2 linked regions of the Homo sapiens genome follow. The main gene of each other region encodes a partner of the protein of the gene in region 2 in a complex. Each region holds a gene or a part of one and is shown on either strand. Other genes may lie near its edges.

What was found.
Region 1: the proteins of PRPF40A (region 2) and SF1 are in contact, whole or in part, in an NMR structure (PDB 8PXX), measured with the Homo sapiens proteins. Residues at the interface, in NP_001352526.1 of Homo sapiens: His164, Ser166, Tyr172, Tyr174, Ser181, Thr182, Trp183, Tyr213, Tyr215, Ser222, Arg223, Trp224; in NP_004621.2 of Homo sapiens: Pro575, Pro576, Leu577, Pro578, Pro579, Gly580, Ala581, Pro582, Pro586, Pro587, Pro588, Pro589, Pro590.

The regions. Positions count from the first base shown.
Region 1 is NC_000011.10:64,772,166-64,788,748, forward strand, and holds the start of SF1 (splicing factor 1), read right to left. Parts: upstream 6,378-16,583; 5' UTR 6,228-6,377; coding exon 6,197-6,227; coding exon of another isoform or gene 5,822-6,196; intron 5,597-5,821; exon of another isoform or gene 5,334-5,596; intron 4,462-5,333; coding exon 4,333-4,461; intron 1,341-4,332; coding exon 1,265-1,340; intron 1-1,264. UniProt on the Homo sapiens protein: Necessary for the ATP-dependent first step of spliceosome assembly. Binds to the intron branch point sequence (BPS) 5'-UACUAAC-3' of the pre-mRNA. May act as transcription repressor.
Region 2 is NC_000002.12:152,708,914-152,724,754, reverse strand, and holds the start of PRPF40A (pre-mRNA-processing factor 40 homolog A), read left to right. Parts: upstream 1-7,315; coding exon 7,316-7,525; intron 7,526-8,628; coding exon 8,629-8,760; intron 8,761-10,125; exon of another isoform or gene 10,126-10,157; coding exon of another isoform or gene 10,158-10,205; intron 10,206-12,387; exon of another isoform or gene 12,388-12,451; intron 12,452-15,841. Other genes in the region: ARL6IP6 (ADP-ribosylation factor-like protein 6-interacting protein 6), read right to left, coding at 4,169-4,222, 5,731-6,130.

The sequences.
Region 1 (16,583 bases), on a different chromosome or scaffold from region 2:
CAACTAAATTCTAATCCCAGTTATCCAGGAAGCAAAGAAGGTTTGTTAAAAATTCAACCTTTGGAGGAATTGACTGGTGACCTGTAGACATATTATTAAAGGGAAAAAGGCCAAAAAGGCACTAAACAGTTGTGGTCTATGACCTACAATGTAAATTTAAAAAAAAAAAAAATCTTCAAAAAGAAACGAAACACAACACAACCCTACAACCAAAATCTATCTATAGGTAAAATATAGCAAATGTAGTAAGTCAAATTAAAGAGTCAATATGGAGAAACAAGGAAGTTAATGTTTCCTGGCAAAGGGCGGAAGAAAGATGCATGAGTGAGTGACTTCTAAAGCCATTACATCATCTTCCTGATTTAATAAGCTATTAACTGGGTAACAAAAACCAAAAACACTACTTTTTAAAGCAAAGTCTTTTCAACTATTCTGTATGTACTAAGAGAAAATTCAGTGAGAGGGAGAGACTTACTGCCCTTCTAATTAAATGACCAATTTTAGCTGTTCAATCAGCTAATAAAATTCCAGTTTAAAAAAGTTCATCTCCCCCACACAATTTATTTTTCTGAGGTGAGAGAAACTGCAAACTGAAATGACATGACCACAGCTGTTTGAGGCCCACGCTCCCTTTAAGGAAAAAAAAAAAGTAATTTAGGGTTGGTTGCATGCCTTCCCAAAATAGGTGAGAATATTCTGGCCCCTCCCAACACCCCCAAGGCAATGGCCAAGGCTGAAAGTTAACTGGCAGTGAAAGAAGTTGGTTAGAAATCTCATCTGATTTTGAAACCATCTCAAAACCATGAGCAGGAAGACTGCAGCAATGAGCTGACCAGAGCTCCTGGCTTGCTCAAGTTCAGTGATGCTCAAAAATATTTTTAGTCCCTGCACTGTGTACCTGTGAGAAAAACTCTATGCCCTGGGCTTTTGGCCAAAGCAGGTACTGAAAAGGCAGGTTAACGGGCCACCTCACTGTCCCCTAAGGGTGGGTAAATCAGGTTAAGATCTACATGCTTACCAATTGGAAACCAGTTGTCCATTTTCCTGTAACTTTTTATTCTCCCAACATTTTTAAGTTTTATTCCAATTTTCTAACTGTTGACTGACCATACATATTTCTAATTAAACCTTAATCCCCAAAGTGGTCAGGGTACAGTCGTCATACTATGATTTTATTGAACTGACACAATATGTTGCCACCAGTAAAACGTATTGAGAAAAAGGTAAAAGCGTTACTGTCAGCTGGTTAAAACTGTTTCCCAACCTGTCCTCAGGGTTAGGGGGGATGCCCAGGTCTCCTGTGCGCAGTTTACGAGTCAGGTCTTCTATCTGCAGTTGCACTGGAAGAAACCAGGTTAGGAAAGAAAAAAAAGGATGGAAAAAAGACAATGTTACCAATAAACATCTCAAATCTCAACAACAAGCATGAAGAACTCGGAGACTTTGAAAGGGACGACTGATCAGTGAACACATTGAAGCAAAAACCCCCAACCACCTATCGGCAGGAGTCCTTTTACATCTATAGGTTTTTTTCACTTCAAAATGGTTATCACTTAAGGAAGCAAACAGTTTGTTGGAAGAGGGGTTAGCAATAAAGACTGTTCACTAAGGCTAACATCCAAGCAATTATTAGGAGGTGTTTCACCTCTTCCTCCCCACCAAGGCTTGCTTACCATTGGTACCCAGAACCATAAACCATGTTACGTCACCAATACCCGACTCCCATCAAATTACTTGAGGGCAAGAATTGAGTTTTTTCTTCATTAAATGTTAAACATAGCCCAAAATGAGACCCAATTAACATGGGACAAGGAAAAATACCAATTGAGCAAAGATCATTTTCATTAATACATTTAAAATTCCTTAAATAAGACATTTAATAACAAAATTCAACACCTTATAGAAATTTGTACATACTCTTTCTGTACAACCAGACCTGTACTAGTAAGGGTCTCCCAATACCTGCAGCTCTTATTCAATTATATGAAATATTTATTCAAATATTAAATGACAAACCACATATCTTAATAAACCAGTAACCATAAAGTGCTAAGAATTTGTTTTCAGGCTCACTGTTCATATGGGGAGCAGGCGTGTAGAAGAATGGAATGTGTGTTCAAGGACAATGTACTTGGCCCTCGGGCCTTGACCAATGAGGCTGTGCATGAAAAAGAGAGATGAGGGTTTCACAAAAGTTGCCAGTGACGCCAGGGAAATGTTACACAGCTGATTTTCCAAGATAATGGGAACTGCAGAGCCAGAGCAGCTTTCTTCAACATGCGGAATAACCACCTGTTCCTTACCTTCGCAGCATCTGAGAATTTTCAGCAGGCATCTCCAATAAGGGCAAATGTTACTAGGTTGGGTTAAAACTGAGCTGGCTCCAAGATAGGATTAATGCGTGTCTAACCAAAGATTCCTTCTAACTTTAAATACATCCACAGGGCTATACCACACCCACACACTAAAACCCTGAAGAAATGAAAACCCATTATTATCGAAAGAAAATACTGGCCGGGCACAGTGGCTCACACCTGTAATCCCAGTACTTTGGGAGGCCAAGGCAGGCAGATCATGAGGACAAGAGATCGAGACCATCCTGGCCAACATGGTGAAACCCCGTCTCTACTAAAACTACAAAAAAAATTAGCTGGGCATGGTGGCGTGCGCCTGTAGTCCCAGCTACTTGGGAGGCTGAGGTGGGAGAATCACTTGAACCCGGGAGACGCAGGTTGCAGTGAGCCGAGATCGCACCACTACACTCCAGCCTGGCGACACAGCAAGACTCAGTCTCTCAAAAAAAAAAAAAAAAAGATATTGAGGGCATCCTGGACAAAGCAGTATGTACCGTGGGAGACAGAAAAGTAGTAAGACACATGGTTCCCCAAGCTCCTTTATGCCTAAAAAGTTCTGACTTTGCAGTTGAGTATTAAGCTCAACAACTCGAGGTGAAAGTCACCTTCACTGAGGGGAGAAGGTGAGTCTTCCTAGCTGACTATGGAGATGTGGGGCCTGATCTAAATAAAAAGGGTCATTCTCTTCTGTGGAGAACTACACCTCTCCTTTGATTCTATTTTGATTATAGCTATAAATAGTCCTTAGGGCCCAGTGAACTAACTAGCCCTCCACAAAAACAGAAATGGAGATATAAAGAATTTGTGCTCTTCCCATCTTCTAAGTATGCTTGTGTTCTTGGGATATCACTCCACTAGGGGCATTTCACAAGGATGTAAAGACCCAGACTAGTCTAATATGAGACACAATGGAATGGGTGGGAGTAGACAGGAACAGTAGGGGAAAGAACAAGTATTAGTAGTACTGTGAAAGGAGACAGACAATTCCAACGCCTCAAAATTCTCAGCAGTCTAAAAAACAGGAAATTAAGACCCTCAAAAGTAGTAACATGCTGGCCTTGAAGCTTTTTGGTTGTGAAGGCCACAGCCTCGTAGGTTTAGGAGGTCTTTGCCCGAATTTCCTCCAAAGGGGATGTTTATTTGGTTAGTAGGAAATGTTTATAAAGTGAACTTTTTTGAGACAGCTGCACAGGTATATAAAGATAAAACTTGCATTAAAAACTTTTTTTTCCAAAAAAGCAATTTTGAGGTTAATTTCAATTCCACTGTGGATAGTCATTAATTCTCAAAACCTCCCAGCAAATAAAACCTTTTTATCCTAGCACTTCATTCCATATCCATGCAATATCCCTTTCCCAGCAGAGTTCTTTAAAAGTAAATACAAGAGCCTTCATTTTAAGACAGCTCTCCATAGACCAAACCAGAAAAGATGTTGAAGGGAAGGTTAAACTCTTAAATTCAAGAAAATAAAAAGGGGTAAATTGTAAACACACTTTCAGAACCACTTTTTGTCATTTTTTTTTTTTCAGAAAGTACCTATAAAAAGTAAAAGACCACATTTTAGGGGGAGAAATATAAAATTATGGTGAAAGGCCACGCTGTGAAAAGTACTTGGTTTACAGTACCTGCGGTGTTCTCCACTGGGGCCTGTCCAGAGAGGCAGATGACACTCACCTCATCAACTGGCAATGAACAGCAGCTGAAAAGGGTGGCTGCTGGACTGGGGACTGTTCTTACTCCTAAGTGAAACCCTACCTTCCTGATACTCATGGAGAACACTGCAGTTACGAACAGACCAAAACAAGGAGCTGCAAATGCAGAACTCACTGGGCAAAAACTGACAGATGATACCAAAGTCGTGAAAGTATCTCATCTCAAAAAAGATAACTACAATCTCAAACTTTCAAAAAATGCAGATCTTGCTCAGAATAAATCGTAACAATCTCAAAGTGCATTTGGATGCAGAACGTATATTTACCTATATAAGCTCTTTCTTGTTCTCGAGTAAGTCCAGGGGGAATAACTGTAGGCATTCCTGGAATCACTGTCTTCTGTTCCATTGTGTCTTGGTTCCAGCGGCTCCTCTTCCGCTTCTTACTTGGGAAGTCTAAAAGGCAGAGACAAAATCCATCCGATGTAAATACAAGTAGTTATCAACAGACAGCTAAGGGTATTTAAGGTACTACACAGAAACTCAGCAGACTGTGAAGCTGAGAGCTTAACCTAAAACTTAAACATTAAAAAAACAGAAAACAAACCTCAGAGATCAGAGATTTAAAGCTTATGGCCACTACAAGGGTATGTGGTCCTTGGTCAGGCAAGTTAACATTTCACCTTCTTTTGTCTAGAAAAACTGTCAGATATATAAACGTGGTAATCTTAATGCATATGGCTGCAGAGAGTGTTAGATAGATACTACATCAACCATGAGTGCTCTGAAATCCCCAGGGGAGACAAAAATACACTGAAGAATCATAGATTTGTAAAGCAGTCCTGATGGGACTGGGGGCTCCACCCACCTCCACTCCCCTCACCAGTCACTTTTGTACGAGAGGCCGGACCACAACTAAACCTAGTTACACCCTACCAAGTGGGAAAAGCCCAATTCTTCAACAAGATCACCTTTGTCTTCATAAGTTTAGCCAAGATCAGCATTCAGTTTTCCTGGCCAGTTGGACACTGAGGGTCTGAACTCTTAAAAGGATCTATCAAAAATTCAACAACCTATACAATAGCAGCCAAGTTCTCCTTTCCCCGTACATAGGCAGAAACTCCCTACATTTGCCACAAAAGAGTCCTTCTATTTCCCAAGGGGTACAGGATCAGAGGGAAAAGCTTTTTAAAACAAAGCGACAGGGCAGCCGATCAGACTGAGATCTAAACATACTGAACAGATTTAAAAAAAAAAACAAACTAAAATTCTCTCCCCAAAAGAGACCAAGAAAGATCAGACCCAACCATCATCTGAAGCATGCCAACCTCTCCCGGATGAAAACCCTGCCTTGCTGTAGAAGCAGAGGAGCTATCCTTGGTACGGTTCCCATTCTGGTTCCTCAAGACCAGAAGGGAGTCGCTGCACGTCATCAGGTGAGGCTTTCACGCCCTGCTGGCATTCACAGCTAGCACCCCGTCCAGCGCTGAACACCCGCCACCCCTGTTCCCGACACCAGCGGACTGGACAGCAATAGTGGGCCCCCAGTCTATACAGTTGCGCCGCACAGCCCGGCCACCTCACTGCGTCTGCGCACAGAGCGCCTCCCGCCCGCCCAGCCCTCCCCCCACAGCGCGCGTGCGCACTCGAGGCCCTAGAACCAGGCCGCGCGCGCCCAGGGGCGCCTCCGCCCGGGCCTCCCCGTGCGCGCACGCGCGCCCCTGCCGCGTGCAGCCGCCGTCGCCGCCGCCGCGCGCCCCTCAGGCGGCCGGGCCCGTCCGCGCGACGCCTCTCGCGCTCTCTCGGCCCGACTCACCTCCTCCGCCGCCGGCCGGGCCCGGCTGCTGGTCCTTACGCGGCGGCTGGGGTGGCGGCGGCTGCGGCGGCGACACGCGCTGGTAGAGCGGCGGCGGAGGGGGCGGCTGCGGCGGCGGGTACGAGGCGCCGGGGGACGGTGGCGGTGGAGGCGGCGGCGGCTGCTGGGGAGGCGGAGGGGGCGGCGGCGGAGGCGGCGGAGGCAGCGCCGCGAAGGGGAAGGCCGCGGTCAGGGCCCCCATCGAGCCCACGGGCGGGGGCGGCGGCGGCCCGGGAGCCAGCAGCCCCGCCCCAGGCCCGGGTGCAGGCGGAGGGCCCGGCTCGAAGCCTCCTTTGGGCCCGGGGAGCGGGGGCAGCCCGGGGGGGCCCAGCTTACCCAACGGCGTGGCGTTCGCTCCGGTCGCCATGGCGCCCCCGGGGACAGGCACCGGCACCTGCTTTTCCTCTGCGGCGGCTTCTCCTTCGCAAGCCTCCCGGGGGGAGGGGACCCGAATGCGCTGCCGGAGCGCGCGGAGCCCGTCCTCTCACGCGGCGGGCGGCGGCGGCGCGAGACGCACAAAGAGGGAGGAGAGAGGGCACCGCGGGGGCGGGCCGGGGGCGGCGGGGCCGGGGCCTGGATTGGGCCGGGCCGAGGCGAAGGGTCGAAATCGGCGGCCTCCGATTGGCGGAGCCTCAGTCCTTCTTGATGCGCGCTGGGATTGGCCGAACCGTTAGGCCAAGCGAGGAAATGGCGGCGGAGTTCGGTGGGCTGGGAGGTGTCGCAGCGCGCACTTCATTTGTTACTGCGTGAACTGAGCTCCGAGTCCAGAAAGGAGGGGATGGGGTGGGGCGAACTCTATGACGGAGCGACGGCGAGCTCTCTCATTGGCTGCGGTGGTGGACTCAATCAATCTCGCCTGCGTTGTAGTGTCGCGGGATTGGCTGTCGCTGGTTCCAGCCTTTTTCTACTCCCCTCCCCCAGGGGGCAGTTTCTCCGGGATTAAGCGAGAGTCGCGGCGGAAAAGGCCCAGCCGGAACGAGATTTACGGCGGGGGAGTCCTGGAGCAGGAAGTGCGCATGCGTAGATGGAGCAAAACCGCCTCTCCACCCGTCTCCCTTCACCATCGACCCTTGGGTCCAGCAAGGAAGCCCTAAGTGACGTCAACCTTTGTTCCCATGGTAACGCAGAACCTTGGGGCGGGAGCAGGGGAGGGGCTGGCGCGCGCCGGAAAACCGGCTCAGTTGACGCTGCAGGTAAAAAGACTTCCTGTTTTTTTGGAAAAAAAAAAAAAAAAAAAAAGTGACCCAAAAAGCTACGAATAGAGACGACTTATCGAAGGATTTAAAACAGTATTTGAACTGATGCAACAACATATTAGATGAAAGGTAACAGAAGGTTGTCAGTTCAAAAATTACAAATACACACTTCTATTGGAATCTCCACGGAGTTCAGAGGATTTAATTAAATGATCTTAAAATCGTATAAAACAATAACTACGGCCGGGCGCGGTGGCTCACGCCTGTAATCCCAGCACTTTGACAGGCCGAGGCGGGCGAATCACAAGGTCAGAAGGTCGAGACCAGCCTGACCAACATGGCGAAACCCCGTCTCTACGAAAAATACAAAAATTAGTTGGGTGTAGTGGTGCACTCCTGCAATCCCAGCTTCCCAGGAGGATGAGGCAAGAGAATCGCTTGAACCCGGGAGGCGGAGGTTGCAGTGAGCCGAGATGGGGCCACTGCACTTCAGCCTGGGTGACAGAGCGAGACTGTCAAAAATAAAAATAAAAATAACTACTACAGTACTGGGAAAACTTTACAAGACGGAGCAGGAGCTTGCCTTTCCAGATGACAAACATAGTATATAAAACACAATAGGCCAGTGCCAAGGCACTGGGAGGCCAAGGCGGGGGGATCACCTGAGGTCAGGAGTTCGAGACCAACCTGACCAACACGGTGAAACCCCCGTCTCTACTAAAAGTACAAAAATTAGCCGAGCGTGGTGGCAGACGCCTATAATCCCAGCTTCTCAGGAGGCTGAGGCAGGAGAATTGCTTGAACCCAGGAGGCGGAGGTGTAGTGAGCTGAGATCGCACCACTGTACTCCAGCCTGGGCAACAGCATGAGACTCCGTCTCAAAAACAAAAAACCACAATAATAAAACAATATGATATTGTTGGTAGGAAAGACACATTAGTGCAACAGAATCCGGAAATACCACAAATGTAGTATTTTATTTCAATCAGGAAAAGATGATTTCGTTGATAAATGGCGTAGAATCTTAAATTTAAACAACAAAACATTTAGAATATAATTTAGGAGACTATAAGGGTATTCTAGGGGTTGAGAGACTGCAAAGACAGGAACCTCAAACTGTAAAAAGATATACTTGATTACCCCGAAAATTAACACTGATAAAAGTCAAGAGACAATGATAGATGAGGAAAAAATATTTGCCATACATGATAAAGAGCCAATACCTGTAATATACAAATACATCTTAAAAACTAATTAGAAAAAAGGCAAAAACAATAGAAAATGAGCAAAAAATAGGAATGGACATGTCTCAGAAGAACAAATCCAAATAGCCAAGAAATATGAAAGGGTGCACAACCCCTCTGCTGTGGTTTTTTAAAATAAATAGAAAAGATGTTGGAACCCCCACAACACTTGAAACCTGGAGAGAGAGGTGACTGTGATCTCAGCCATGTATGGTTATAATTTTTTCTGAGATAATAAATTAGACCTGCTTGTTTTTCTTGTTCTGTACAATTATTGGAGAGAATTAAACATGGGACAAAAACCTGCTGCCTTCTTAATGACCCTTCTTATAGATAACTTCCCTTTTGTTGTCCTGCTTTACTTAGACCAGATGACAGCAAACCCATGACTATTACACCCTCTGTAAAAAATGTTAAATGTATGCCTCCCAAAAAGAAACACTGCTTACAACCAAATTATTTATTATTATTATTTCAATTTGAGACAGAGTCTGGCTCTGTCGCCCAGGCTGGAGTGCAATGGCACAATCTCGGCTCACTGCACCCTCTGCCTCCCAGATTCAAGCGATTCTCCCACCTCAGCCTCCTGAGTAGCCGGGATTACAGCCACCTGCCATCATGCCCAGCTAATTGTTACATTTTTGTAAAGATGGAATTTCACCATGTTGGCCAGGCTGGTCTTGAACTCCTGACCTCAGGTGATCTGCCCGCCTCGGCCTCCCAAAGTGCTGGGATTACAGGAGTGGACCACTGCACTCGGCCTATAACCAAATTACTGTAAGTACGCACTGACCATATATGAAGAATGTAATCCTAAAACTCCTCTGCCTTTGTGTGTGTAAATGAAACCTTAACTTCTCTACTTCGAAACACTGACTCCATTCATTTGGAGTCGGTGTTTCCAGGTAGTCCACCCTCATGTTTTGTGCTTGAATAAACTATTGAAATTAGATTCTGACCCTTTTGATTACTTTAGGTGGACAGGTTTGAATGTGTCCCCCAAAGCTCATGTGTTAGAAACTTAATCTCCATCCAGGCGCGGTGGCTCCAACACTTTGGGAGGCCGAGGTGGGTGGATCACCTGAGGTCAGGAGTTCGAGACCAGCCTGGCCAACATGAATCTCCTGCCTCAGCCTCCCAAGTAGTTGGGATTACAGGTGCCGCCACTATGCCTGGCTAATTTTTTGTATTTTTAATAGAGACAGGGTTTCACCATGTTGGCCAGGCTGGTCTCGAACTCCTTACCTCAGGTGATCCACCCACCTTGGCCTCCCAAACTGCTGGGATTATAGGCGTGAGCCACCGTGCCCAGCCAGAAATCTCTATTCTTTATAAATTACCCAGACTGGGTGTGGTGGCTAATGCCTGTAATCCCAGCACTTTGAGAGTCTGAGGTGGGAGGATCTCTTGAGCTCAGAAGTTTGTGACCAGCCTGGGCAACATCTACTAAAAAAATAAAAAATAAAAAAAAAATGCTGGTCATGGTGGTCCATGTCTATAGTCCCAGCTACACAAGAGGCTGAAGCAGGAGGATTACTTGAGCCCAGGAGATCAAGGCTGCAATGAGCTATGATCACGCCACTGCAATCCAGCCTGAGCAACAGAGCAAGACCCTGTCTCAAATAAATAAATTACCCAGTCTCAGGGATTCTGTTATAGCAGTACCACCTTAGACTGTGCTGAGTTTGTGCGACTGAGACTAGCTAATTTATTTACCAGTATTTAGACACTGCCTATAAGGGAAATACAAATTAAGGTGATAATGAGGAATCTCAAAATAAATGAAAATAGCAGAACATAAATGTGCTAACACCTACTATCGTTAATCTTTTAGAAAGCATTCTGTTGTCTATTAAAATTGTTCCCCCTTTCAAAAAATAAAAAAATATGCACCTGTACTCACAGCTACTTGTGAAGCTGAGGTGGGAGGATCCCTTGAGCCCAGGAGGTAAAGGCAGAAGTGAGCTGTGATTGGGCGACAGAGTGAGACTCTGTCTCAAAAGAAAGAAAACATAAACCCTTTCGATCCAATATCCCACTCCTGGGAATCTGCCCCCAAACAAGCCATGTGATTATATAATGTTTTCAAAGTCTTCTGCATTTACTGCAGCATTGTTTGTAGTGGTAAAAATGGGCAAACAGAGTGAATTTCCATCAATATATGAACGACTGAATTGGAAAACCCATAACCTAGAATATTAGGCAGCTTTGAAAAGCTGTTAATTCATACCAACCAACCTAAAGTAACTACTGTTCTGTGTTAACAAAGAAATACATATGACATGGCTTTGTTTTTGTAACACAAACCCCATACAGATGTGTGCATGTTTGCATATGATTATCTGAGCATAACAAAGGCTACAGAAGGATACACAGCACATGCTCTATTGCAGAGTGAAATGGGCGGCTGGAAGTTGCCCAACACATCTTAAACATCCAACTTTTTTTTTTTTTTTTCTTATGAGATGGAGTCTTGCTCTGTCACCCAGACCAGAGTGCAGTGGCATGATCTTGGCTCACTGCAACCTCCTCCTCCTGGGTTCAAGCGATTCTCGTGACTCAGCCTCCAGAGTAGCTCGGATTACAGGCATGCGCCACCATGCTTGGCTAATTTTTGTATTTTTAGTAGAGACGGGGTTTCACCATGTTGGCCAGGCTGGTCTCAAACTCCTGATCTCAAGTGATTCGCCCGCCTCAGCCTCCCAAAGTGCTGGGATTACAGGCGTGAGCCACCAAACCCAGCCTAAAAATCCAAAGTTAAAAAAAAAATGCTTCATACGCTTAACAAATGTATTACATGATTCCATTTTTGCAACATTATATAACTATAGGCATTGAGAAATGCACCAAGGGCTGGGTGCAGTGGCTCACACTTGTAATCTCAGCACTTTGGGAAGGCAAGGCAGGAGGATTGCTTGAGGCCAGGAGTTCGAAACCAGCCTGGGCAACATAGGGAGAATGTCTCTACAGAAACAAAAATAATAATAATCAGCTGAGCGTGATGTGTGCCTGTAGTTCCAGCTACTTGGGAGGCTGAGGCAGGAGGATTGTTTGACCCCAAAGAGTTTGAGGCTGCAATAAGCTGTGATCACACCACTGCACTGAAGCCTGAGTGACAGAGGGAGACCCTGTCTCAAAAAAAAAAAAAAAAAAAAAAAAAAAAGGCTGGGTGCGGTGGCTCACACCTGTAATCCCAGCACTTTGGGAGGCCGAGGCAGGCAGATCATGAGGTCAGGAGATTGAGACCATCCTGGCTAACACGGTGAAACCCCATCTCTACTAAAAATACAAAAAAAAAAATAGCTGAGTGTGGTGGCAGGTGCCTGTAGTCCCAGCTACTCAGGAGGCTGAGGCAGGAGAATGGCGTGAACCCGGGAGGCAGAGCTTGCAGTGAGCTGAGATCACGCCACTGTACTCCAGCCTGGGCAACAGAGCGAGACTCCGTCTCAAAAAATAAAAAATAAAAAATACATTGAGGTGGCTCACATCTATAATCCCAACTACTCAGAAGGCTGAAGTGGGATCACTCAAGGCCAGGAATTCAAGACCAGCCTGGGCAACATGGGTAGACCTCTGTCTCTACAAAAAATAAAAAATTAGTTGGGTATGGTAGTGTGAGCCTGTAGTCTCAGCTACTCATGAGGACTGAGGTGGGAGGATGGCTTGAGCCCCAGAGGCAGGGGTGGCAGTGAGTGGAGGTGACACCACTGCACTCCAGCCTGGGTGACAGAATGAGAACCCATCTCAAAAAACAAAAAAAGGCTGGGCACAGTATTTCACACCTGTAATCGCAACACTTTTGGAGGCCAAGGCAGGCAGATCACTTGAGACCAGGAGTTCAAAACCAGCCTGTCCAACATGGAGAAACCCCATCTCTACTAAAAAGACAAAAATTAGCCGGGTGTACTGGTGCACACCTGAAGTCCTAGCTACTCAGGAGGCTGAGGCAGGAGAATCACCTGAACCCGTGAGGCAGAGGTTGCAGTGAGCCGAGATCGCATCACTGCACTCCAGTCAGGGCAACAGAGCAAGACTCCAATCTCAAAAGAAAAAGAAAAACAGAAAAAGATGCGGCCGGGCGCAGTGGCTCACACCTGTAATCCCAGCACTTTGGGAGGCCGAGGCAGGCAGATCACCTGAGGTCAGGAGTTCAAGACCAGTCTGCCCAACATGGCAAAACCCCATCTCTACTCAAAATACAAAAATTAGCCAGGCATGCCTGTAATCCCAGCTACTCAGGCGGCTGAGGCAGGAAAATCACTTGAACCCAGGAAGGCGGAGGTTGTAGTGAGCCAAGATCAGGCCACTGCACTCCAGCCTAGGTGACAGAGTGAGACTCCGTCTCAAAAAAAAAAAAAAAAATTAAACGACACTTAACTGTGAGTCAGCCCTTCCACTCCAAACTATTTACCCACAAGAAATGATAGAATATATCCAACAAAGACAGGTACATGAATGTTTATAGCAGCTTTATTTGTAATAGTTCACAACGGAACATGGTCCAAATGTCCATCAACAGGTGAACAGCTAACCAAACTGGTGCATCCAAACAATGGAATACTACTTGGCAATAAAAAGGAATAAAATATTAATGCATGCAACAGGGATGACTCGCAAATCCTTATGCTCAGCTAAGCAAGAAGCCAGACAAAACACAAGTACATACTGTGTGATTCTATTTACATACATTCTAGAAAGTGCAGATTAACCTGTAGTGACAGAAAGCAGCACAGTTGTTACTTGGGGATGGGAGGCAAGAAGCAGGAGGGTGGGCTTACCAAGGGCATGGGAAACTTTCCAGAGTGAAGGGGATGGTGATTATCTTGATTGTGGAAATAGCTTCACGGGTGTACACGTATGTCAAAAGTCATCACGTACACATTTTTATATGCAGCTTATTGTATGCCAATTATGCCTCAATAAAACTGTCTTTCAACAATACACACTAGAAGGCAGCAACTGCAAAGTGGCAATTCCAGAGTTCTGTGCAGGACGCTGCAGTGATTCCGCCCCACTTGTTTTCACCATCTAGGGAAACGTCCTCTTCGTTTTTGGTCTTGTCTTTCAAGCGAGTTCTATTTTTTCGGTGATTACTTTTAAATATTTTTTAAAAATTTTTTTCCTTTTTTTTTTTTTCTTTTTGAGACAGGTTCTCACTCTGTCACCCAGGCTGGAGTGCAGTGGCAAGTTCATAGCTCACTGCAGCCTTGAACTCCTAGGCTCAAGCAATCCTCCCACCTTAGCCTCCAGAGTAGCTGGGACTGCAGGCGAGTGCCACCATGTCCAGCTAATTTGTGTATCTTTTGTAGAGACAGGGTTTTGTCATGTTGCCCAGGCTGGTCTAGAACTCCTGGGTTCAAGTGATCTGCCTGCCTCAGTTTCCCAAAGTGCTGGGATTACAGACATGAACCACCATGCCCAAACTAAAATTTTATGACATAATATTTGATACATACAAAAGGATGTGTGGCACCTTATGTGAGTTAGGAACTGAGTTATAACTTAAATACCCATGAACCTACCACCAAACCTGAGAGCTAAGATATTACCAATACCTTTAAAAATTCCTGGGCTCCTTCCTTATCCCATCCCACACTCCTCTCAGGGACGACCATCTCAGATTTTGTGCTTTTCCTTCCCATGATTTTTTAATAGGGTTGTATCTTGGGCATGTATTGCTAAACAATAGATGGTTTCATTTTGTTTTTGAGCTTTATAATATGCTATCGTACTGTGCATAAAGTGCTGTTTTAATTTACCTCTAAGAGTCATCTATGTTATTGCATTATGTCTGTTACAGTATTTCTGATCCTCCTGACAGCCCTGCAGTTGGCTTTGGATATGGTAAACCTAAGGAAAGTAAAGCTCAGCGAGCTGGGGTGGCTCACCCAGTCCAAGGGCAGATTGCAGGGACTCCTCTTCACCACATCTTGTCCATTCCCTTACTCGTGAGGGTCTCCTGAGCACTGGTAGTGAGCAGGTGCTGGACATGCCACAGGGAACACGGCAGATCCTCCGCCGTCCCGAAGCACACATCATGGTGCTCCCCTTGACTTTCACCAGGATGACTCCGGGTATGGGCCAGTTACCTGAACATCCTGGGGGGGCCCACGTCCCTTCTACTTGTCCTCAAGAATGACTTAAAGAGTCTGGTCTGACCCTCCCACAGGTTTCTGCCCATGGAGGGGCAACTGGACAGCAGCTATCACCACGGCATATGTAGCCACCGCTAACTCATTAATGCTGCTTCCAGGAACTTATCTTCTAGAAGTGCTTGAATATGTACAGAGGGGCACTAGCCTAATAATATTTATTGCAGCATTGTTTGTAATATAAAAGTAGTAAAAACAACTCAAATTTCCACCAATAGGGATCTCACTGCAGGTCATTAACATTTGTTATGGGAAACATACACAATGGAATACCACTAGCTGTAAAAAAAAAAAAATTTTTTTTTAAAGGGAGATCTTTAACGCAAAACTCTCCAGGATATATACATATCTTTTCAGGGTGCATGTGATAATTTAATACATTCATATTCTCCAGGATATATATATATTTTTTTCTCTTTTTTTTTTTTTTGAGACGGAGTCTTGCACTGTCGCCCAGGCTGGAGTGCAGTGGCATGTTCTAGGCTCACTGCAACCTCCGCCTCCCAGGTTCAAGCGATTCTCCTGCCTCAGCCTCCCGAGTAGCTGGGATTACAGGCACTCGCCACCATGCCCAGCTAATTTTTTGTATTTTTAGTAGAGACGGGGTTTCACCATGTTGGCCAGGCTGGTCTCGAACCCCTGACCTCGTGATTCGCCCGCCTCGGCCTCCCAAAGTGCTTGGATTACAGGTGTGAGCCACCACACCTGGCCCCCCAGGATATATTTTTAAAGGGCAAGGTCAGTACAGTATGTGGAATATGTTAATACGTATATAAAAAATCGCCAAGAATAAAATATACCAAATTGCTTAAATACGCAAAATACTTCTAGAAGGGTTCATAAGTAACTGAGACCAGGGTGGCTGGGGACGGGGTAAGAGGGAGACTTCATTATATCTCTGCTGTATTTAAAAAAATATGTACCATGGGCAAAGGTTACGCATTTAAAAATACATAAATAAAATTTAAAGTGTTAGTCTCTCAGTGCATATTCCCTGGTTTCTCGGCCTTTCTTTGCTCTTGGCCTGCCTTTGCTGGCAGCAAGCGTTTTATGGGAGGCCCCCACTTTGGCAGTTTACACTCTGCAGTCCAAACCCCGTTTCCAGACTGAATCTGAGGTCCGGGAAGATCCGCCACAAGGAGGCACTGTCTGCTGCTGGCCGGTTGGTGAACGGAAAGCCAGTCCTCCCCAGGGCGCCTTTGGTCAGGGCCTTTGCTGAGCAGGAGCTCACCTCCCTGTCCCCACTTACCCCACCCTGGTCCCAACATTCCTCCGAGAAATCTGGAAAATTGGAAGTTAGGAATTCACTTTGTATCCCTGTTACCACCGACCCCAATTTGGAAGGTGCCCCTCACCCTCCTTGGGGCTCACGGGAACATGGGTGTGAATGCCTGGTGTGAAGAGATGTGTTCCCTCCCCTGGGCTGGCTCCCCATTCCAGCCAAGAAACCCTCCCAGTCACTGGACAGAGTCAGAACAGTTGAAACTCTGCTGGAGGGTGGCTGAGGGGACAGTGTGACACCCTGGGAACCACTGAGCCTACTCGCATGGCTGCCATCCACCTACCACGTCACTCCGCAAGTCTTTATTGCCACCCACCAGGTGCAAAGGTCTTCCTCCAACACCTGCCTTGAATGTAGGGGTGACCATGGGGCCTTTGCTCCAGCTGTTCCCCCCACCCTGCCCCCACCTTCCCAGCCCCCCAGCTGTGGGCCCTCAAGGCAGTTCCCATCCTGCCTCCTGGGCTGCAGCTGCCCAAAGGCTCCAGTCAAGAGCGGCTGATCAGTGCCTGGGGCAAAAGAGGATGCCCAGCCCTGGGGGCCCTGGCATTCAGAGCTGAGCAGACAGACCCTTGGAGAATGACAGCGTAAGCACAAGCTACAGGAGAATGGCCATGCCCTCAAGATGCAGGCTCCAGCAAGGAGGACGCCCTCCCTGGGGGCTGGTCTGTTTCTGGTAGTGACCCCAGGGCCTGGCACTGAGGCAGCCCTTGGGAGTCTGGTAGACGGACACAGGCTAGCCTTCCCATCCAATCTGATGATCGTGCTGTCATCTGATGTTCCTGGTCTAACACCTAGGCAGTAGGTGGAGGCAGGGGATACAGGTCACACAGGCTACCTCCATGGGCAGCA
Region 2 (15,841 bases):
CACCATGTGAAGAGCAGCAAAATTTATCTTTCAGGTGATTCTGATGCCAGCTAACTTTTGACTTCATTAGCCTAAGAAACGTCCCTCCCAACCACCAAAGTTGGACTACAGAGTACCACACAATGTCAACTCAATTTATTGAGATTTAGGGGTCCTAATGTCTGGTTCTTATTACTGCTTTTATGTGTTAAGAAGAGTCCTGTAATAATTTCATGACTAATAATTTAGCTGCACATGGCTAATTCTTGCTGATAACCCATTCTTTTTCTGCCTTGCTATACTACCTAGACTATCTATGGTATAAAAATTATAATACATACTTTCTTGAGTTTTGGTTTAGAAGAAAATAACATTGATGGATACAGTGTAGTTGAGAATACTAGAGGAAATAACACACAAATTAATGGCTTTTGGCATATTGTAAAAGTGCAATAAATGGTGTTATTGTTAATTACTGAAACATTATTCTCTAAACTTAAATTTGTGCTTTCCCTTAAAGTTTTTCTTATTGCAAGTTACACTTATACATTGTAGAAAATAAAAATAATAAATACAACCAATCAATTCGGAAACCCAGATAAACTAACATTTTGATTATATCCTTCCAGTCCTTTTTGGCTTTCTCTCTTTTTTTTTTTTTTTTTTGGCCTTAGTCATCATTTCTTGAATAATACAAATAGGTAAGACAATTTTACAAAAATTGTGCTATAGAATAGGATATTTGTGACTTTTTAGATGAAATATTAGAGCTACCCCACCCAGCCACAGATAGCACTGTAACACTTTCTTAATAGAGTATAGGTTCAAATTATAAAGTCCACACACTGGCTAAAAAGTTCAAGTTCAGAGTTTCAATCAATTTTCATTGTAAGGATGAAACTGAGTTTTACTCAACTTGTGTCTTTTTAAGAGAATGGGCCACCTCCCACACATCCTTTCTCTTGGACTTTTTTTAACACTTCTAATGTTCTGTATCACGAAATCATGATGGCCAAAACAAAATCTACAGGTGCTTTTAAAAAAGCAAGTCCCCAAGTGATTGTTACCCATACCAAAATGAGAATTGCTGCTATAATCTGTTCTTACTGACTGCCATGCCAATCTTGGACTAGGATTAAATTGCAATTAAATTCTGCAGTGTACAAAATTTTTGTCAGTCTGTCTAGAAAAAGAAAGAGAACTCTTTCATGGTAGAGCAGTTACTGTGCTCACGTTGCTTTTTCTAAAAACCAACCTACTTTCAAACAAAGAATGAGGAAATTTGCAGTAAATTTTAAATATGAGTCACGGAAATATTAAGATAATAGCATGTGTGGGCAATAATAAGTATGCCAAGAAATAAAGAGTAATATACAAAACAATCAAACATTATTACATTTGGCTACGAGGTTCCTAATAAACAGGGCAAAATAAATAGTGAAATATAATAAAATCGTTATCATCTGATAAAAGGCTGCATGGTACTTTTCCCAAACGTAATGGATGACTTCAACACATTTTCTTATTAAATATTTCAAATTGTTTCTTCATGTGAAAACTGTCTTATTAATTGTAAAAAGGATGTAACTTCATAGGCATCTCCTCAGGGGTAAACTAATGAGGCAATTTTTCTTGATATCTAAGTTAATCAACTCAGCGTTGATTTAGATGGAAGTCAAGTTTGAGAGAACCATCCTACCTTTTCAGCTATCAATTATCTCAAGAGGAGTTTTAACCAGAGGACAGGAGTCAATTCAAAACATTCTGTAAATAGGCTAACTTGTATTTTTCTTGAAAACAGTAGAGAATTGCAGCTTAGAAAAAAAGGCAGGTGTTGCCACAATTACCTCAATCTTTTGTTTTGTTTTGAGTTGGAGTCTTGCTCTGTTGCTGAGGATGGAATGCAGTGGCGCAATCTTGGCTCACTGCAACCTCCACCTCCCCGGTTCAAGTGATTCTCCTGCCTCAGCCTCCCGAGTAGGTGGGATTACAGGCCTGTGCCACCATGCCCAGCTAATTTTGTTTTTGTATTTTTAGTAAAGGCGGGGTTTCACCATGTTGTTCAGGCTGGTCTCGAACTCCTGACCTCAAGTGATCCACCCGCCTCGGCCTCCCAAAGTGTTGGGATTATACGTGTGAGCCACCGCGCGTGGCCGATCACCTCAATCTTATTAAGAGCTTAATCATCTTGGCCCTGTTTCACTGAAACAGATTTTTAAGAATCCTCTTCTGGTAGAGACAACTATTCTCTATCCATATGTTATAATACATACATCTGCTATAACTATTCTTTAAAATTAACCCCCAGGAAACTGATTGAATTAGCCCATTAAATGATATTAACTATTTTTATTCTCCATCTGACCACTGGAGCTCATCTGACCATTGGTTCAAAATAATGAGCTTTGTTTTGGCATAGCTGTTGGGTTTTTTTCACCATAAAGATACAACACTTTCTGCTCATTCCTGACTCTTGACAATAAATTCATGCCATTAGCAAAATCTTAATGATTTTCCTATTTGCTGTAAAAATATTAAGTATCTATCATGCATACCTAAAAGCAACATGGGATTATTTAACCCTAAGTGGAAAAGGAAGCAGGACCATGTCAAAAGACCTATCACATTCCTTTTGATATTGAGCAAGCCATTCCTTCAGATAACAACTGCCCGTCATTCTACTCCTAAATGAGAAATCAGGACAACTTTTAAACAGCAAAAGGTTTAGAATTCATGCCTAATTCATAAGATTCTGTTTCCACTGCATCAAGAGGTGACAGATCAATAAAAGCTCTGAGAAGCCTAATAATCTTGGCTTATTTCTAGAGATAAAACAATGTAAAAACATACACTGATAAAATGAGTAACTAAAAAGTATGTTTTCTCATGCAAGATGTTGACAAGAACAGACAAAAGTTTCCATGCAATATCTAAGAAACCAACTTCTTTGCAATTTGAAGATAAAGGGTTCATGTTTCCCCTTCTGCTGAAATAAGGTACACTATACTTAGTGTCACCATAAGGGTGATTAGCCATAAAGTGGTAGATTAGAGAGTTTAGGAAAGAATGGGAGAGGGGAGGACATGTGTCATAGTGTCTCAACCACCTATCTACAGTGATCAAATCAAATGATTTAATTTAAAGTGATCACATCAAATGACTTGATTCATGTGATCGAATGTAGAGTGATTAAGTTTGATCTCCCCTCCCCAATTTAGAGTGATCAAAGCAAATAGGAGTAAAATATGCTGGACAGGTAAAGTTTTCAACTCTTCAGAATCATTTTGGTGGAGAGAAATATAGAATAACCTTTTTCACTGGAAACCTGTGAACTACAGCATTCTACAGACACTGCAGAAACTGAGGTCTGACTCTCCTAGTCATTTACCTGTGCAAGGATGGTCAATGCTTTAAAAAAAAAAAAAGCTGCACATAAAGATATTTGAACTTAAATTCCTCCTGAAGCCTACATAAGACATTATTTACCTTTGCTAGGATAGTGAGGAAGTTCTTTTGTTTTTAAATTCCTGAGAAGAGCTGTGGGAAGCCTCTTCCAGAAGGTAATTAGAAAATGTTAAATATTTCTCTGGACCTGAGTCACATGCAGTTGTGTTTAAAATGTATTACTAGTGTGTGTGGTACATACACATACCAGTACCCATTAAAAAAATTATTATTGTTTCAGACAGGGTCTCACTCTGTCGCCCAGGCTGGAGTGCAGTGTAACTATCACGGTTCACTGCAGCCTTGAACTTCCCAGCTTAAGTGATCCTCCCACATCAGCCTCCCAAGTAGCTGGGACTACAAACATGAGTGAAACCATGCCTGGCTAATTCTGTTTATTTTTTGTAGAGACAGGGTCTCACTATGTTGCCCAGACTGGTCTGGAACTCCTGGGCTCAAGTGATTCTACTGCCTCAGCTTCCCAAAGTGTTGGGATTACAGATGTGAGCCACTGCACCTGGCCCCATTAAAAAATTATAGCAAACATACCATATATGCATACACATACTCCACACATATAAAGGAAATCTAATAACATTTATCACCAACATATGCAAATTAAAAACAAGACTGAATGACTGCACATAGAAATACATTAAGTATTTTATCCCAGAGTTAGTTCAAACATGATCTAGAAACACAAACGTGAGCTCAAAACCAAAGCAAGCGGCAATTAAGTCCATACCTAATAGTCCAGTGTCTACATCATCTTCATTTTTCAAATTCTCAGCATGCAACTCTGCAAATACAAAGAGGGACTTAGGTAGGAAAGCAATACTATAATTTGAAAAGTAACTCAAGGGCTGTGAAGGCATTGTGGAGCTGTGGAAAGTGCTCTGGAGTCACAAAGAACTGGGTTCAAATTCTGATTCAATTTACCAGCTATGTGACCTTCAGCAAGCAAATTAATGTGTTGACCACTAAGGGAGCCAACAGCTATATACCGTACATAGGATGAGAGTACTGTTTATTCCCTAAGGTAGTGGTAAACACTAAAGGGCATACTAGGTGGAGTTCAGTTCCTTTCTCTATTCTTCCAAATAAGCACAGTTCAATGTCTTCTGCAATGGAATTCCACTTATCATGGTTTTGTGACTTTATGATACAAAGGCAATGTCTCCGAGCAAAACAGAAATAAACCACCTAGGAGACAAAACTATCAGAATTGCAAAAAAGGGCAAAAAAGTGGGGAGGGGAATGATAAATGAAACATTGGCAGCCAATCATTTAAGACTGACAGCTTGCATTTTATGCACATTCAGTTTACCATTTTATGAAGAGGTAAAACCCACATCAACTGGCCAAAGTGTCTTCTGTATGAAAATCAAGCATTGTAAGGTTTTAGATGCCATGCCATCTGTAGCCCACTAAACGCTGGGAAGCAATGAGGACAAATAAAAACTGGAGTTAAATAGATTTAATTATATTTAATGAAGTACAAAAATAACACTTCAGTGACAATGTTTTGGGTGCTTTTCATACAACAAAGTTCTTTTGTTTTTTTTTTTTTTTTTTTTTTTTCAGTAACTTGGCAAAGGTCACAAACTAGTGAGAATGGAAATTTAAACTTAACTCTGCTTCTTTCCACTATAATATACACTAGCCAACTAAATTATACAACCGTATGCCTTGCAATAAACTTCAACCGGCCAATATTTCAACTTCAGACAGAAAAACAAAATTATTAGAGGACGAGTGGACTATACTTTCTGCAACAGAACTCCGTGCACTACACCTGGATACAAACTTAAAAACTGAGAGGCTAATTATTTTACCTATAAAAGAAGAAATTTGGACTATGCGATGAAAATCTTTGTCCCTCAAGATTCTGTGTAGAGGAATTGGTGGACAGCACATCTTTATTTGTGGATGAAGGCCATTGAACATGGCCTATTTTAATTATATGCACTTTTCACTGTCTCCTTTTAATGGTGGGTGTTTCGCATTTTGTTTAATCTTCACAATATTTCATCCCCAGTGTTCAAGGACTTGAAGATATTTCTTCAAGAGTACCCATTTAATCAAACGATCCTTTTTAAAAATACGTCTCCTGATCATGGATCAGGACGCTCCACTTAGAAAAGGCAAAGGGCGGGAGAGCAAAGTAAGATGCAAATGAGGACTCTGGGTGAAAGCAGCTGCCAGCCTGAGGGCTTAGCGCGAGGGAAAGGGAGATGGGTGGAGACGAGAGCCACACCCTGGCTCAACTTTACTCTGGACAGACTTTCAAGGCGTCGGCTTCAATACCTTTAACGATCAAGTAGGCGATGGCGAGGAGGAAGGCGAGAAGAATGGCGAAGAGCAGCGAGCAGAGAATAGAGAGGACCTGGACCGGCCACCGCCGAGGCTGGGCTCTGCTGCCCGCGGCCGCGGGAAAGATACCATTGCGCTTATCGGGCAGAACGGGCGACCCGTTCCCGTCCGGCGGGAGCACCGAGCGCTTTCTGGGCTCTGACCACGCCCCAGCCGAGAACTCCGCCCGCAGGTCGCGGGCCACTTGGTCGCATCCCTCCTCCTCGTCGACTTCGCCTTCACCCCAGCTGTCCCCCTGAGTAAAGGAGGAATACGATGGCCGAGCCACAGGGCCCGGGGTGCCGGGACCGCGGCGCCGCAGAGCCGACCGCCACCCGCTCTCAGCAAACGACATGGCGCGAAACACAACGAAACCCGCGGAGAACGAGCCTCTCCCACCTGCCCCGCCCCGGGTCCGCAACAGCCAATCCGCGGCAGTGGCCGCTACCACCAGGCCTCAGAGCCCAGGGGTAAACCACGGAGAGCAAGGGTGGGCGGCGGGTTGCAAAGGAAGCCGCAGGGCCAAAGGAGAGGCGGAATGCGCTTCGACCAGAGCTCGACCCCAGGGCTGTAGCCGGAAAGGGGAGCAGGAAAGCGCGCAGGGAGAAGCGAGCGGAGGCCGAAGGCTGTCGAGTATCCACTCCCTGCGGGGCTTCGTCCCGGCCGGAGACCTCCGCCACCCCCGCGTCACCAACGGGAGCGCGCGCCCCGACAGCCCCAAAGCCTCATCTTTTCGACGCCGGGTCCTAGCGCCCGCTCGCGCCCTCGGAGACACATTCCCGAACCTATTTGTCTTCTCCCTTCTTCCCCACTACGCTCACACTCTTCTCCAGGTTCCCCCATTAAGGGCACCTCTCTACCTGGCGCTCTCGCGGTTCCTTAACTGCTCACCCCCATCTCCCTTTAGTGTGGTTCTCCCCACCCGTACTACAACTTCCCTCCCGCTACTCGACACGCCTCCTTCCCCAGGCGCGCGCTCTCCACCTGGTGCGTACGGAGATCGAACCCTCTCCTCCGAACCCCTCCTTTCGCCTTCCCCGCCTCCTCCCCTCCGCCTCGAGCACCGCGCGCGCGCATTCGGTCCCAGCCACCGCTAACACTACAGGCTGCTTACCCCCGCCCCCTCCACCCTACCCCTGGCGGCCTCAGGTTTGTGGGGCGTACGTAACTCGGGCGGGGAGGGTGAAGGTGGCAGACCCCCACTGCCCCACCCCCTACGGGGTGAGGCGGTCTAAGCTCGGGAAGCTGGGACACTGTTGTCTTCCCTTCCCCTGGGGAAGTTGGTAGAGTTTTCCCGACGGAGGACTCGGCGCAGAAACTTCCTCCGTCCTCCTCCTCCCCCCCCCCCATGCAGGCGACGCCGAGTGAGGCTGAGGCTGGGGGCGAATCGCCGCAGAGCTGCGTGTCGGCGGCGCATTCTGATTGGACAGCGGGGAAGCCCGTCAGCCTGTTGGCCCCGCTGATCCCGCCCCGTAGCGCAGGGCAGCCTTTAACCTTTAGCCCCAGTGGGCGCCAGCCACTCAGATCGCTTCTTGTTGGTATGTGTAGCGGCAGTGGCCGCCGGCGGAGCAGTCTGAGCCCGACGATGAGGCCGGGGACGGGAGCTGAGCGTGGAGGCCTCATGGTGAGTGAAATGGAGAGCCATCCTCCCTCGCAGGGTCCTGGGGACGGGGAGCGGAGATTGTCCGGCTCAAGCCTCTGCTCCGGCTCTTGGGTCTCTGCTGACGGCTTCCTGAGGAGACGGCCCTCGGTAAGGGATCAGTGGGGCAGGGGGAAGGCGGCACAATGAAAAACGGAGTGAGAAACAGGAAGCTTTCTCCGAAAGGAGAAGAAGATAAGAGTGGACGAAGGAAGAACTCGAGATGGTGGGATATGTTCTGAGGGAGAGAAGTGGAGGGTGGAAATGCACAAAGAGAAGGATGTGAGACCCTGGAAGTTCCCCGTGGGCTTGGCCTAGACAGATGCGTGGTGAAGGTGCTGGCTCTTGGGCGGGGTGAGCGTCTTGGAGCTTTAGGCCCGATTTTAGCTGGGAGGGGGAGGCAGGGGCTTGATACTGTAAGACTTTAACAGCGGCTGCCAAAATTTGTTTTCATTAGTCGTCGGGGTGGTCTGCAGGGGGAACTGTTGGGACAATTGGCAGGAGATAATTAGGTGGTTTTAATTTAAAACATAGAACAATGGACTCATCGGTAAAGAAAGTAGTTGTCTTTTTAAACTGCGTTAAAAAGGATGAATTAGTTGTTTGCATTTAGTGTCCGTGAGTGACAGAACCTCAGTCTTTGAAAATGTATTTTTGGCAGAAGGAATTTTACCTGTCTTAAAGGTTATGTTAGGAAATAAGTTTGTTAGGAGTGAATTGTGCCTGGGTAGCCATACTGTTTGTGTTTTGTAAGACCGACTCTCACCTGAGTTAATTGGATAGAGCATTTTAAAGTTTAAAATCAGTAGTGTTATAAAATAACAATAGCTGGCTATCTTTTATATCTGCATGAAATAGGAGAGTTGTTGTTTTCACCATAACAGTTTTAAAATTAGTATTCAATGTGTATCCTCCAAGCTTAGCAAGCCAATTAGTAGCTGGTTAAGTCAGTGCTTAAAAAAAAGAGAGAGAAAACCTATGATCCAGCGGTCCAGGATTCATCTTAACTTTTCCCATTTTTTTACGGAATTTGCAAGCTCGTTTTAAATACTAGCAGAATGCGTTTTGTTTGAAACAAGGTATAGACTAATCCAATGATGTTATTACACATAAGCTTAATATTATGTCGCTTCAGATAACTGATCTGTTGAAATGAGATTTTTGAGAAGCATTTAGTATTATTTGCTCATTTAAAAATGTTCACTGTTTTTCAGATGGGGCACCCTGGCATGCATTATGCCCCAATGGGAATGCACCCTATGGGTCAGAGAGCGAATATGCCTCCTGTACCTCATGGAATGATGCCGCAGATGATGCCCCCTATGGGAGGGCCACCAATGGGACAAGTAAGACTGTTTTTGTTTTATTTTGCATTTATTTATTTGTTTTTGCCTCAGGTATTCTATCAAGATTTCAGAATCTAGGTCAGTAGTTATAGCTGTTTAATGATTAGTTTATGCCCGAATAATTTCAAATAAGCCAAATGTTAAATCATGACTGTAACGGAAATTTGAATAATGGAAAAGTCTTCTGAGAAATTTAAATAATGAAAAAGTCTTCTGAGAAATTTACTGATGACCTCAAAACTAAGAATTTTTTTCTTTATTATTTAAAAGTAAAGTGTGGATCCAGGCTTTTATTTTTAATGATTATTTTTTCAAGAATGCCAATTGAAGTTGATGGTCTAAGTAAATATTATCTGATACAGCAACATAACTGATTTTGGTAGACCATGTAAATAAATAGAATCTGAAAATAGCTATTGTTTTGGTTTAGAGCGAATTTTATTCCTGAAATATCTTCCTCTTTGTGTGTTGGAGGAGGGTGAGGGAGGGTGGGGAGTTTGTGCTCTATAATTCTGATTCTTCATAGGACAGTGCCAATAGGTAGTTCATTTTCCACTTATACTATTTTTTTTTAATGCTTGTTGCTTCTACACTCCTGCTTATGAGCTGTCCCTTCCATCTCTAGCATAAATTGTAAATGGACATTTTGTAGGAGTGATTTGGATCAAAAGGTTTTAATGCTGATTCAGTGATTTCGGTAGAACTGAGTTTCTAGAGAAGCATCCAAGAAAGGTAACAGGTTCAGTTACCATGAGTAATTTTGTGCTTCATGTTAAGTTCTATAATAGATCTTTAGGTGGCTGGGTTATTTCCATTTGAGTATTTCCATAAATCATCAAAAATTTAGGCTAACAAAATATTTTGGAAGCCAATTTCATGTGATCTTTTGCTAATTAGTACTGTTTGATAATTGTTTAAGCTTTCATGGTTAAAGTTATTGGTGAAATTGCAGTGGGAAAAGGAGCTTGCTATGTGTCTGTCTCTTTTTACTTAACCTTAAGAGTAGAAGGGCTTAATGTCCAGTGATTTTCCTCTTTTTTTTTTTAATTTGGAATATTGCCCTTAATTTTGTTAAAAAACAAAACAAAACCTTTATTCAAAGGCACCAGCCCCAAAAGATTCTGCTTGCAGGAGTTCTTTAAATAAAAGAGCCTTTTATTCTGTTACTCTAGAATAACACAAATTTTAAAACTCTCTAGGTGATGGAGAAACAACTTTGATTCCTCTTCTGTTTCTTTCCATCTCTAAGGAGCAAGGAGCTCTTCTTGTTTTCTTGGTAGAGCTGCTCTAACTAGATAATGAGCTTTAAAAATATTTATTCTTTAAATGCTCTGGTTCTTATTTAAAATTAGTTTCTTTCCACAGAAAGATAAAATAAAACAATTTGCTACTGCCAGATGCTTCTCTCTTTTCTGGGGCCTTCTGTTTCCATTGGGCCAATCAAGGTAAGTTTTGCAAGGGATTGACCTGCTTACCCTTGCTGTAATGGTGCTATTGCACTACCAAAACCAAGATACCAGCTAGTCATAGTTCTAGTTAAAAAAAAAAATGCAGATTTTATTTTTTAAAAGTACTTTCATGTATCTCATTGACATAAGCTGGTCACAGTTTGCTTTATGGCCCTTTCTCTTTAGCTGTATCAGTGACCATCTTTCTAGTAAGTTTACTTGCTACTCGGTACACATCCATTCAAATAACTGATTTTTTTGGTGTGGTTTTCTTCTACTTTTTCCTAGGCTAATATATGCCACGTGCCTTTAAGTAGACCTAATTATTTAGATGTTTAGAATTCTTCTCCCTCTGAAGGCTCCTGTTAGTATAATAAATAAATGTTTTAGTAGGAGTTATGCCCTGAAAGTCCCAAAAGAATCTCCGCTGTTTTTGTCAGAATTATATAATTCCCTTTTATCCCCTTAATATTTCACTAACAAATATGGGTCCCAAATCTTGGTAAAACAAATTCTTGTTTTAGCTTTATAACAGACTGGGAGAGCATGGATAATTTGAATTCTCAAATCAGAAATCATATTTGAAACTCTGTAAACATTGCTTTAAAAATTAAAGGTGATAATAAATAGGACAATTGATCCTTTTTCCTGCATTATTTCTTCTGCCACTCTTGGAAGTACTCAGGAGGAATAAGTGGTCAGAAGATAATTGAGAAGAAGCAGGATGTCTGTCTGTATCATTCACAGTAGTGACAGTTGGGAGGGTTCTGCCATGCAATTTAAAAAAGTCAGTTCACAAATTCTTTAGACTTTGGGACTGAAGGTTATAAAAACCTTCATGTGTTGACTGGTTTGCATGAACATCTCATGCTGGGACTAGCTAAAGACTAAAATTGGTGGCAGTCTTACTTGCCAAATAATTGTGGTCTTTGGAATGTTACCAATATGACATGAAACTGTAAAACTTGTTTGTAAAATAATATGCAGACTGGGTAGCATAATGATGTACGGAAGCCAGGGTTCATAATTTCTCAAATGCATCAAGCTATTTAGCTTAAAGAAGTGGTGTGTTCAAATTTTTTTTTTCTTAATTCATGAGATGACCTAGAGTGCCATCTCATGCATTTAGGCTGACTCTTAGTAGTAATAAATATTTGATGATTATCAAATTGAGCTTAATATTCTTTCAGGTTTATTTCAGTTTTCTATCTTGTAGATTAAATTTGCCTCTTATTCTATATAACTTTATAGGAAAGTCATACTTTTAGAGTTATAGGATCTTATAGCTGAAAGGGACCTTACAGGTTGTTTAAGCTTTAAATAATATGTGATTTAAGATGCTTTGAGGATCACTGGTTAAATGTTAGTAAAGAAAGATAAAGAATTTTCCCTGCTGGATGGCAGTACTCAAAAATTTCCCATTGGGAGGCTGAGGCGGGTGCATCGCTTGAGCTCAGGAGTTGGAGACCAGCCTGGGCAACATGGTGAAACCCCATCTCTACAAAAACTATTTAAAAATAAGCTGGGTGTGGTGGTGTGCGTCTGTCGTCCCAGCTACTTAGGGGGCTGAGGCAGAAGGATTGCTTGAACCTGGGAGGTCGAGGCTGCAGTGAGTCAAGATCACGCCTTGCACTCCATCCTGGGTGACAAAGTGAGACCCTATCTCAAAAAAATAAAGATTTTCTGTAGAGATTTCTATCAATAAAATTATGTGTGAGGCTGTCTTCTTCCTCAGTGTCCATAGTAAATACTGTTTTCATGTCTTTTGTGTTTTCTACACAAAGGACATGCAGGTCCTGCCATCTTTATCACAGATGATTATGCCTTTGCCCCAGAGTCATGCTAGCTGGCTCTTTTTTTTTCCTCCCTATTTGAGTCTTTATTTTCCTCTATCAGTGAGAAGAGTAGAGTAATTGAGTTAAGGTCCCTTTCAGCTCTAACATCCTATGATTCAGTTCAGATCATTTGATAAGAGTAGATATCAGATTTTATGGGATGATATGGAAAGAACAGAAAATTCCTTTAGTAATGCCTCCCTAATTCTATTTATTCAGTGCTTTTTTTTTTTGGTCTTTGGTCAGTAAACTGATAAATGAATAATTGCTTTTTACAAATGAGTTTGATTTTCTTGCTCCTATATTGAGTAAGGCTGGCTCTAATAGATCTTATTTTATTTCAGTTCCTGCTACCACATGAGCCCAAGTCGTCACTCTCCCATGCCTAGGTTATTCAACAGTTTTTGAGTTGAGTTGGTTTTCTTGCTTCAAGGATGCCCCCCTGCCCCCACAAATTTTAGATTTCAATGTGTTATCTCCTTGCCCAAGAATCTCCAGTACTTTCAGTGCCTATAACATAGTATCTAAATTCCACAGCTTAACTTTAAAGAACCTCCCCATAGTACATGTCAAAGCAGGATTCAAGGCTGCATGTCTTTACACTCCCTAATTTGAACTTAGGCTGGTCTTTTCACGGTGTCTTGAGTGATTATATTAGTTCACAACTTCAAACTTAGGCTGTTCTTCTTACCCTCCTGCCCCCAGCTCAGTATCACCATGAAGTTTGCTTTGCTTACCTATGTTGTACTATTTCAAGTCCTGCCTTCTCCAAAAGTTTCTCAAAAATGACTTTTGCCAACATATACCTCCCCTTCAGATTATTAAAGAAAATATTTGTAATCTACCCATAACTCTTACCGTTTCACTTATTTTGGCACCTAGTTATTGACTTGTTTTATGGTTTCTTAATTTGCTTTAATTTTCCAACAAGTAATAGATTGTAAGCTCTTAGAGGGCAGGGGCTATGTTCTGTACTTTTTAAGAAGCCTATAGGTGCTGAGCACAGTTCTTGGCACATCATGGGTGCTCAGTAAAATACTTGTTGAATGAATGAAACAAATACACAGGTATTCTTTCCTGCAGTATAAGCCCATAAGTCAGTCAGTGTTAAATGTGACTGTTTCCAGTGGTTACTTGTGACTTTACGTTGTTACTACTTATTCTTGTTTTTAGTGTCTGCCTCTTTACTCTTACTTTTTCATTTGACAAAAATGGAAGATAAATAAGATGAAATAAATAATTTTTGTTTGGAGAATAAAACTAAAATATTTCCATTTGCAGTCGACCCTCTGTATCCAGAGATTCAAGCAACTGCGATGGAAAATAGTCTTTAAAAAAGCAACAACAAAAAAATACAAATTTTTAAAAATAAAGTATAATAACTTTTATAGCATTTACATTGTGTAAGGTATTATAAGTAATGTAGAGGTAATGTAGAGGAAAAAATAACAAAGTAGGATATAGGCCTTGCAGAGAAATTTAGTGTATTGGTACCTTAGACTTACCTGACTGATTTGACAAATTTATTTGTTGCTGTTCCTTCTGAATTACCCTTCCTTTTGAGTAGCTACAGGATCCATGCCATTGAATTGGGCATTAGCCAGTGACAAAAAAGAGATAGAATTTTTGTTTTTTAGGTCATCTGCTCATAATTCTTGAATCTGGGTAACTTCTGGGTACATGTGGATGACTCAAGCAAGTACTTTTAAAAAATATCTTAACTCAGACCTAATGTCTGTAAATTCTTGACTCAATGTGGTTAGATTTTTGACAAATGTTAATAGTGAGACTACAAATACGTTTATTTTCATTATCTTTAGATAGCAGTTCATTTAAATATGAGCTCATCTATTCACAAACTTAGTGTGGAAAGATCTAAGGAGGACCACATCAGTTGAGAAGAATGACCGGCATCCCCTGCTCCCCTTTTGAAATTCACAAGGCATAATATTTACTAAAGTGATGAGAAGTCTTGCAGAAGCCTTTTACAATTTTTACTTAGTATTTCTGTCTTATTTGACCATCTCCCCCATAAATCTCCCACATAAAGCATTTGTTTTGCTTTGTGTAGCACATTGTATGAAATTAGCATTTTGTGAGAAATGCTGAATTAGGGCCCTTTATTCTTTTAGTTTGCTCTTTAGGAGAAAAAGGCAACATCAAAATAAGTTAGTGTTAACACACATATGCATAAACGAAACAGCTTGTGTAGTGCAATGAATGTATTCATTAGATAGTGGATCAAAAGAGGAAACAAGTCAATAGATTAACCTTTGATTTTTAAATTAGGCTTGTTGAATATCATGATAAGACTAATAGTAGTATTAATAGATAGTAAAGATTTGAGGCTAGGCACGGTGGCTCATGCCTGTAATCTCAGCACTTTGGGAGCCCGAGGTGGATGGATCACTTCAGGTCAGAAGTTTGAGACCAGCCTAACCAACATGGTGAAACCCCATCTCTACTAAAAATACAAAAATTAGCGGGACATGGTGGCGCACACCTGTCATCTCAGCTACTTGGGAGGCTGAGGCAGGAGAATTGCTTGAACCTGGGAGGTGGAGGTCTCAGTGAGCTGAGATCGCGCTATTGCACTCCAGCCTAGGCAACAATAGCAAAACTGTCTCAAAAAAAAAAAAAAAGATTTGGTACATATGCTACACCATAGCAGTGTACTAGGGATTTTGGGGTTTGTTTGTTTGTTTGTTTTGAGACAGAGTGTCTGTCACCCAGGCTGGAGTGCAATGGTGCAATCTCCACTTACTGCAACCTCATCCTCCCAGGTTCTCCAAGTAGCTGGAATCACAGGTGCGTGCCACATGCCTAGGTAATTTTTGTATTTTTAGTAGAGTCAGGGTATCGCCATGTTGGCCAGGCTGGTCTCGAACTCCAAGGCGCAAGTGATTCTCCTGCCTTGGCCTCCTAAAGTGCTGGGATCACAGGCATGAGCCGCCTTGCCCAACCTGTTTTTAACCTAGAGAAATAGGTCCATGTTGTGAAGGTTTATAAGTAGGAATTAATAGATGACATTCCAAGTAGAAATTATCAGTCTCATTCTTATTTTTTTCCTTACCTTTATTTTTCTTTTATTCAGTACACATTTAAGTATCTTGGGTGTGGTACCTAGTGTACAGGTGATGTATGCCCTGCTCTCAAGGAGGTCATTCCTGAGATGCCATTTTGAACTCATTTTTGTCTTCTAACTGCTGATTTGGTTGTTATGGTATTTCCGTACATTTGGAAATCTAGTGGCTATGAATATTTTATACAGGTTGAGTATCTGTAATCTGGAAACCAGAAATGCTCCAAAATCTAAAACTTTGAGTGCCAACATGACACTCGAAATAAATGCTCATTGGAATGTTTCAGATTTTTGAATTAGGGATGCTCAACCAGTAGGTAAAAAGGCAAATATCTGCAAATCTGAAAAAATCCCAGTCTGGTGTCAAGCATTCTGTATAAAGGCCTCTCAACCTGTATTTGCCTTCTTTCGCTGTCTGGTCAAGTACTTGTACATTATGTATCACTTATTTTAAGCAAGTTAGTTGTACTTAGCAGTTATTAGAGATGTGATTGTTGGAAGTGAATGTTCAGTGTTGCAAAGTGAAAATAGCACTCAGGCAAAAGTTTTCTCAGCAAGGCAGTTTACTTCTGTAGAAGGGTGTGTCTTGCAGATGGAGCAATCGTGAGATGGACAAGGGAGGGGAAGAGGTTCTTATTCTTAACACAGCTGGTCCCCACTGTTGTGTCTTTCCCCTACTGGCTAGGGTTGGACCGCACAATCTAAAGTGACCCAGT